2 separate regions of the Homo sapiens genome follow, and region 2 is linked to region 1. Evidence: fine-mapped expression QTL. Tissue or cell type: left ventricle. Region 1 holds a variant in brackets; the other region holds the start of a gene. All regions are shown on one strand. Distances are from middle to middle. Region 1 has its middle 45 kb from the start of LINC02286. Region 2 holds the start of LINC02286 (long intergenic non-protein coding RNA 2286).

The links. PIP is the estimated chance that this variant, and not a neighbour inherited with it, causes the effect.
Region 2: it holds the start of LINC02286, and the variant in region 1 is fine-mapped to the expression of LINC02286 in left ventricle (GTEx, PIP above 0.99).

What each region holds. Positions count from the first base shown.
Region 1 is chr14:25,108,887-25,113,294 of GRCh38, forward strand. No RefSeq gene overlaps it. Among named protein-coding and RNA genes, the nearest start is that of LINC02286, 45 kb to the right of the region's middle. The variant A/G (reference allele first, on the strand shown) is at 2,657.
Region 2 is chr14:25,154,318-25,158,725 of GRCh38, forward strand. It overlaps LINC02286 (long intergenic non-protein coding RNA 2286), which reads right to left and starts at 1,946. Exons shown (of 5, transcript NR_184204.1): 1 at 1,871-1,946; 2 at 1,451-1,511.

The sequences.
Region 1 (4,408 bases):
TCACTCATAAAGAAAAGAGATGGAGTGAGGTCAGCTTCAGTGGTAGGTATTGGTCCTCCATGGCCAGGGGGTCCCTCCTGGCAGCTGGCACAGGGTCATTGGCCTGCACACACCCCTCTTGTGCTATATTGGAAGAATGCCACTCCCTTTCCACAGGGAACAGATATAATCATGGGGTTGGCCAGGTGCCAAATAACACACATGCTTATGCAGAACAAAGGAGCATACATTGAGTCTGAAACAGGGAAAGATATTCCCACCCAAGGCGACAAGTCCAGCACAGGCCGTGAGGACTCTTTATCTCTTGGTAAGGAAGTATTTCAGGCCCAAGGCCCCATTCCTATCAGCTGAGAGGATGGCATGCTACTGACTTTCCTAACAGTGACCTTGCTTGTAGGATCCTGTGACTGTCACTGCCACAACCTAGTTTCAGATTTCCTCTTAGAAATGAAGATCTGCCCACATTCAAAGCTGTCATTATCAAAGCCATTTCTCTGAACTCTTCTGAAGAATAATCTTGGAACATCTGATATGTAATGTCTTTTAAATTACTATGGAAAAAAGACAGTCCTGTTTAGATTGAATTTTCCAGATTCATTAGCTACTGGGCTAGGTCTTACTGATACCCACTTTTGTTGACATACTAGAACTTTGTAAAAAATTGGTCTTCTAAACTGAAAACCTTGGAAACTTTTAAACATTGTCCTGAGTAGTTATTTTAGAATTTTGTATATTTGTATGTCTTTTTACGTTGCCTTTATATTAATATATGCCAGAGGTGCTGGGTATTTTATTCCTTGTCAGCATCTGTATTTGTGTACTGTGGAGAGTTCCCATGGTAATAATAAAAAGATAATTTTATTAAATACCAATTTATCCCTTGACAGTTTCAATGCTACTCAGAACAAGATAGGTTTTGTAAGTTCTGGTTTCACAGACTTGTAAGTTTCAACATTTTCTGTATTGTAGAAATCAGTATCCCTGAACGCATAATGATAATTAAAATGCCTTAGAAATCCAGTATAACCAAGAATATCCTGGCATGAAGTATTAGGTCATCAATTTGTGAGGAACATTGAGAGGAATTGAGATGGAATTAGGTATAATCACTCAAACAACAGTAGGACAGGAGGACTTGGAGAGAGAGTTTGTCATTGTATCTGTGACTGGGGATATTTTGGTTTGCTTGCCATGTCAGTGCCTTATTCATCAGGGTAAATATTTTGCCCCATCTAATTATTCTTGGGCTGCTATATCCTTGCTCCCCAGATGTAAATCCCAGGCCGTATCTGGAAAAGACTGAAGTAACAACAAAGTCTGCTTTAGTTGCAGGCATGCTGAATGTTGGCCACAATAGACAGCCTCGTTGAATGAACATTTAGGACATAGTGAGACAATGGGACACATGAAAAGATTTATCTGGCCAACCACTTATTCCCTTGCCAGTGAATCTCCAGTAAAAAATGTGTCTTGTGTGACTCTAAAGTAACATGCAGTCTTTTCATGAGTTTATAGACACTTTTAAATAGAACAATGAGAGAAGAGGGTATTTTACCTTGTTTCAAGATGGGAAGATCTGGGGTTAAGGGTGGTCAGAACATACTTTTGAAGTAGGTTTACCAAAGAGGACTTCCATTCAATTCAGAAAGGAACTGAGTATGTGCAGGAAGAGAAGCAGAGTTTGAGAGAGGCTTCGGAATTGAGAGAACTGGAGGTATGCCTTCCATGGGAACTTCAGAAAGATAGCTCACATTTTTATTAGGGAGTATTCAGACCTAAGTTCCAAAAACAATTAATATGTTCTCCCTGCTTTTTAATTTGTCAAAGAGACTCTAAAATTTAATTCCTTAATTATTAGGTCTCAAAAACGTTTATTCCTATAGACCATAATAGTTGCCAATTAAAGTGGAATTAATTTTCAAATATTAAAATGCATTTGAAACTATTCATATTAATTCTGAAGCAACAAAAGTAAAACAGGACAAGTCATTGAAGAAAAAAATGTACGATACCTCTTACTGCATGCTAAATAAAGCAAATTTAAAATTTGACATTAACTAGACTTTTATTCTAGATAGAGGGACCACATCTGTTCTCTCCTAACACCCCATGAAAATCCATCTCAAAATGTACAAGTATATATTTTTTAATTGCAGCAGCTCTGATAAGCAGGATAAGCTCTGATAAGCAGGAAAGACTACGTGCTGGACTTGAGAATTTCCAAATCCTGCCACATCAGTGGTGTTGGATTGAGAAGCACAGTCATGGATTCCATTTGTTCCACCCTGTGGTGTGGAAAAGTACACATCATCTGGCAGAGGATATGAAAAAGCTCTCTGTTACCAACACAGCCTGTTGCTAGCTCTCAGATTCCAACCAGAAAGTCAGGCAGCCACATTCCTTTCTGCATGAGGATAACATTTTATAGTCAGCCAGATCAGAGTTCTTCTCCTCTTTTTTGCCTTCTCTTTTCATTCTTGATTAGAGACTACATTAGAGACTACTCCTAATTAGAAACTTGTATGTTTTAGTAGAAACCATGCCAGATGTGTGATGCAGTTCAGTGGAATGTTAGAGAGCAACTGATGGTGGCACTTTGAATTGGGATTGTAAGCGTGACAGATGGGGGCTGAGGCAAGAAGAGCCTAGAAGCATG[A/G]GTCAGTGAGTATGCATGAATGTGGGAGGGTTTGTTGGGGGCATCACATCTTGTCTTTGTCAAAGAGGTAATTGAAGACTATGCCTAAGTTTTTAACAAGGTCAAGAGATTCTGGCAGTGAGGGAAGGAGGTTTATTTATTTATCTAGAAAATATTAATTGAGCATCTACTGTGTGGCAGATGCTGTTTTGGTGATAAAGAAATATGAGTAGAGAAGAGAGACCAGGGCCTGGTTCTAGTGGGGAAGGGGAGGGACAAAAATAAGTAAACCATTGAAAAATAGAATCTTTGATCATCATCAGTACGATGAAGAAAATAAGATGGGGTTGTGCGGCAGAGTGATGAGGGCTCTTCAGACCACTCCATTGTAGCTACAACATAGACTGAGCCCAAGTCTGAAGAACTTGTTCAGAAGAAACCAGAAGAAACAAAGTTTCTGTCATTCCTTTTCTTGTTTGATTCTCACCATACCCTATTATGCAGGTACTATTACTATCTTGTTCTACAGTTGGAAAAAAGCTAAGATAATAAATGGGCAAAGATGAATTCTTAAGAGAAATAATACAAATAATTAATAAATACCAGAAACATGTTAAAATTCATGAGTAATAAATGCACTAATAATTAAAGGAATGAAATTTAAAATTATAATTAGATATAATTTTAAATTGTTCAAATTTGCAAAGATAAAAAATAAGACCAAATTATTGCAAGTGATGGTGGTGTAAAATGTAGCCCCCTCATTTGCTTCTGAGGAGAAGGTTAATTGGTATAACTTTTCAGTAAACAGTCTTACCTGTAGGAATAAATACCAAGGAAATAACCAGAAAAGCAAATAAAGATTCATATGGCAGATATTAACTGCAGTACTATGTATAAAATCCCCAACTGGAAACTACCTACATGTTTGACAGCAGGGAAATACTTTCATAGGTACAACCATTACATAGTCATTAAAGATGATGTTCATGAAGATTTATTAACAGCATGGGGAAATGATTATTAAAATATATATTTTTAAGTAGGATAGAAGTTGTATATGTGGCACGGTGAAGTTTGGTAACAGAACCACCTGAGGTCTAAGTGGACACATGACTGTTCAATTAGAAATTACATTTCACAGTTTCTCTTAGCAAGGTGTGGCCACACAATCAAGTTCTGGCCAATGGCATGTGAGCAGAAATAACGTCCAAAATTCTAGATCATGTTCCCAAAAGGAAGCTGCTTACCTTCCACATCCTTTTTCCCTTTTCCCATAGGCTGATGGATAAATGTGGCAGTGGGGTAAGCTGGTTTAGACCATGACAAGAACAACACTGTAAGAAATGACAAAACAAGATAGAAGGAGCTTTGATCCCTGGGTGATCTTGTGGAGTACAGTGTGTACCTGCTGAACCTATCGATTGAACTTTAATGAGAGAAATAACCTTTTATCTAGTTTTCAGCTATTGTGATTTGGTCTCTGTTTAAACAGCTGAAATAATATCCTAATGAATACAGATAGCACCTCTGCAAATTATATACAACATTTTCCTTCTTTATTATTATGATTATTTAATACTTAAAGACACTAACGGTCTTAGTGATAAAGCTAAGGGGCAAGTTCTGATAGATTTGTTAATGAAAGCAGAATGCTTGACATTATGCCTCTGCCATTCGGGCAATCATATTTGCATATGTTTCAGAAAAGCACTTATATATAACTCTAATAATAACAGAGCCAGGTACAAATATAAAAAGGTGAAAGCTTTG
Region 2 (4,408 bases), 45 kb after region 1:
CATTTTTTTCATATACTTGTTGGCCATTTGTGTGTCTTTTAAGTTTTTTAAGGTCTAGAGTATAAAATTTATCTCTGCACTTTAAAAAAATACTGCTTATTCTTAGACAACCCATTGCAACATGGTCTCTACCCTGACCATTCTACTGTAGTCCGCTGAACCTATTTGATTCTGGGTTCCCGGTTGCTAAATTGGGGCCTTTCTCTCAGTCCTCCTGTTGAATTTCTTGCTAAGGAAACAAATGTTTTTTGTTACCAGAGTTTTTGATTTAATTGCAAAAAAAATTAGTAATTGATACACATAGGTCTTGAAACTTCTTCCCTTTCCTCGCTTCTGAACCCAGGAACTCTCCAAGAGCACCAGTTCATTTTGAAATTCTCTTCTTACGGCAGACAGGGATTCAGGCAGTCCAGGAAAGTCTGCTAGTTGAGAGAAACTTGAGCAGTTCCTCTCAACTAGCAGAGTTCCTCTAAACTTATAAAGAAATTGCCACTACTTCTCCTGTGTGCCCTTTTTTCACACAGGAGTAGTGGCAATTTCTTTGTAAGTTGAGCATTGTCTAAATAGTTCTAAAAAGAAGATGCGGAACTCACATACCAGTTCAAGAATCTTTCATCTGACGAGAAGGTAAAGCTGAAAATCCAGACACTGTGTGGAGTAATGGCAGTGGGTAATTACCCAAATATTTATATTTTCAACATTTAAAAATTTTTTTCTACAGCTATTGTTGGGAGAAACAGCTGAGTCATTTGTTCATGTTGACTAGGTTTTATTTGTAGAATAACTTACATTATTTTCGAGTTGGCATGTTGTCATCATTTCCTATTCTGTTTCCAGGGTCAGTTCTGCCTTCCTAAAAATGTTTCTGACACTTCTATGTTTGTTTAAATGAATTTTTTCATCACAACAATTGATTACAGAAGTCAGGATATGCCAGACCTTGACTGCCTATTCATGAGAGAGAGAAGTTATAGGGCCAGATGATGTCAGTTATCAGATGTTAGAGCCAGCCTGGTAAGACATGAGTTGGGAGAGAATTGAAGATCAGAGGAGTCCCATATGAAAGGTGAAACCAGAGTAAATGCAGAAAAGAAAACTGTAAACATTGATGGTCATGTATGGAGGTGCAATGCCTAGATTCACATTCGATAAAACTGTCCCTGGCCCAGTCCCTCAGATGGAAGATGAGCAGCTCCTGACCCCTGGATAGGATTAAAATTGTTTTGCAAATTTTAATAATTTCATAAACTTCTCTGAGATGACAATCCTCATTTTTGAATCTTCTCTGTTTTTTTGAAGCCCTATGCCTGGAGCATGGTGCTGGCTTCTGATGGGCAGGCATCTTTCTCTTCATTTTACATCCACAAATAAGTTAAGTGCCCTTTGGTGCAAAATCATGACAGAGTTGGGAATCTAGTAGGTTCCTGAGACCTCTGGGTTGGGTACTCACCATTCAAATGTAGTGGTTGGGAAACACTGCTTCCTAATGCTGCATGTGCAGAAGTTATTTTCTGAAAAAGAAATTTGAGGCTGTGCTAAGAAGGAGACACATAAATTCAATTTCTCTTTTCTCCTCAGTCCCTCCACCTTCCCTATACCAGTTGCAATCCTATTACCAATTGTCTGGTGGTAGGGGGCATCCAACACTAAGAAAAAATGTCATTAAAGAAAATAGTAGCCTTTAAAGGGCTTTTTAGTGATTTTCAATGAGTTTAACTGTTATCCTCAGGCTTTTGGACAACATTATCTATTCCTATTGAAAATAGATTGCACTTTTTGTTTTTAAGCTGAACGTGCCTAGTGCAAGGAAACTACTAAGATCAGTCTTGATATACCAAATTGAGGACATTATTGTAAAATTCATACTTACAGGGCAATTTGGATACTTATAAGGACCAAAGGAAGGTATAGGAAAAGGAAAAGGAAAAAAAAAAGAGGAAGTAAATGAGACCTGAGAAAAAGAAAAGGCTCTATGAGGTCATGATGAATAGAACAATGGCTCATTATTACATATGGAAAAGAGTGACCTTGCTGAGACTCTGAGAGGCCACCTATGCCGTAAGACACCCTCCACCACCAATGAGCTCTAGGTGCTCAAGGAAGATAAACATAACTGCATAAGTCTCATGAGGGGTGGGAAAAAACAAACAGAAAAACCCCACTGTTGTCTGGGTTCAAAACAGCTTTACTCTGAGATAATCTTATAAAATTGTACAGGAAAAGGGAAAGCAGTTCTCTATTAACTGGAGAGAATGATAAGCCACACACATCCCAGGGCTAACAGTCAATGATCCCAAATGAGCACCTGTAGGGGGACAGAGGCCCGAGACCAGCATCACTGGAAGATCCCAGACCTGAGCTGTAAGGAGTTGCTTTCGTGGTGTTTGGTGAACTCTTCCCTTACTAATCCCTCCCTTGGAGACTGAAAAAGTGATTTTTATAAGAGGTCCAATCCTGATGAGGGTTAGGGGCCATTTAAATGGTACATGTGGGTACTTCTGGAACTTTTTCAACTATTTGGAGAGAGAAGGCCCTATATAAAAAGGCTGAGACCTTTTGCTCCTCAGTTGAGAACTTAAAACACTGAGATTGAAGTAATTATATACATAACTCTGCTATATTCCCCACATACGCAGCCTGAATCCTAAGCATACTACAGATGATTTTGCTGCACACTAAAGTGTGGTAATCATTAGCTAGGGTTGATCAAGCCCAACTTGATGATCTCTGAGCATTGCTTTCTCACTTGTTACTTTTCAAGAATTGTTAAAAGAACCTGCTCACCTCTTATTTATAGAAGCAGGGGCCATTAGAATAGGGAGCTTAGAGATCATCTAGTCCAATAACGTTAGTTTACAGGCGATACTACCAAGGTTCATAGAACTCAATGACCTACTCCAAGTTTGCATGTTAGAGTGGAAGACAGAAAAGAATAGGTTCAAGTGGAAGTAATGGTGCATTCCCAGCATGTGATAAGAATATAATTAGTCTTGGCTCTACCTACTAGGTGGATCTTGAGCCACTGATTTTTCTATTATTTTGTCCTACCACTGAACCTCAATCTCTCTTTAAAATAATTTCAATATTTATTTTAGATTCAAGGGGTATATGTGCAGGATTGTTACCTGGGTATATTGTGTGATGCTGAGGTTTGGGGTGTGAGTGATTCCGTCAATCAAATAGTGAGCATCCAATAGTTATTCAACCCTTTTCTGCCTCCTTCCTTCCCCTTTAGCAGCCTCCAGTTTCTTTTGTTGCCATATTTATGTCCACGAATACCCAATGTTTAGCTCCTTCTTATAAGTGAAAACATGTGGGATTTGGTTTTCTAGTCCTGTGATAATTCACTTAGGATAATGGCTTTCAGCTGCATTCATGTCACTGCAGAGGACATGATTTCACTCTTTTTTATGGCTGCATGGTATTCTGTGATGTACGTGTGCCACCTTTTCTTTATCCAGTCCACCACTGATGGATACCTAGGTTGATTTCATATCCTTGCTATTGTGAATAGTACTGCAATGAACATCCAAGTGTATGTAACTTTATGGTAGAATGACTTATTTTATTTTGAATATATACCCAGTAATTGGGTTGCTGGGTTAAATGGCAGTTCTTCTTTAAATTCTTTGAGAAATCTTCAAACTGTGGCTGAACAAATTTACATTCCTACCAGCAGTGTTTAAGTGTTCCCTTTTTCCCAGCAACCTTACCAGCACCTGTTATTTTTTGACCTTTTAATAATAGCCATTCTGACTAGTGTGAGATGGTATCTCATTGTGGTTTTGATTTGCATTTCTCTGATGATTAGTGATGTTGAATATTTTTCCATATGTTTGTTGGCTAATATGTATGTCTTCTTTTGAGAAGTGTCTGTGCATATCTTTGCCCATTTTTAAAAATGGGGTTATTTGACTTTTTCTTGTTCAATTGTTTAAGTTCCTCTCTCATTCTGTAGGTTTTCTTTTACCCTGTTGATAGTTTCTTTTGCTGTTCAAAAGCTTTTTAGTTTAATTAGGTCCCACTTACTAAATTTTGCTTTCAAAGACTTAGTCATAAATTATTTCCCAAGGCCAATGTTCAGAAGGGTGTTTCCTAGGTTTTTTTTTTTTTTCTGGGATTCTTATAGTTTGAGGTCTTACATTTAAATCTTTAATCCATCTTGAGTTAATTTTTGTATCTGGTGAAAGACAAGTGTCTAATTTCATTTTTCTGCATATGGTTAATGACCTATCTCTGCACCATTTATGGAATAGGGTGTCCTTTCTGCATCTTTGTGAAAGATCAGATGGTTGTGAGTGTGTGACTTTATTTCTGGGCTTTCTAGTTTGTTTTATTGGTCTATGTGTCTGCTGTTTTTTGTTTTTTTTTGTTTTTTTAACCAGCACATGCTGTTTTGATTACTGTA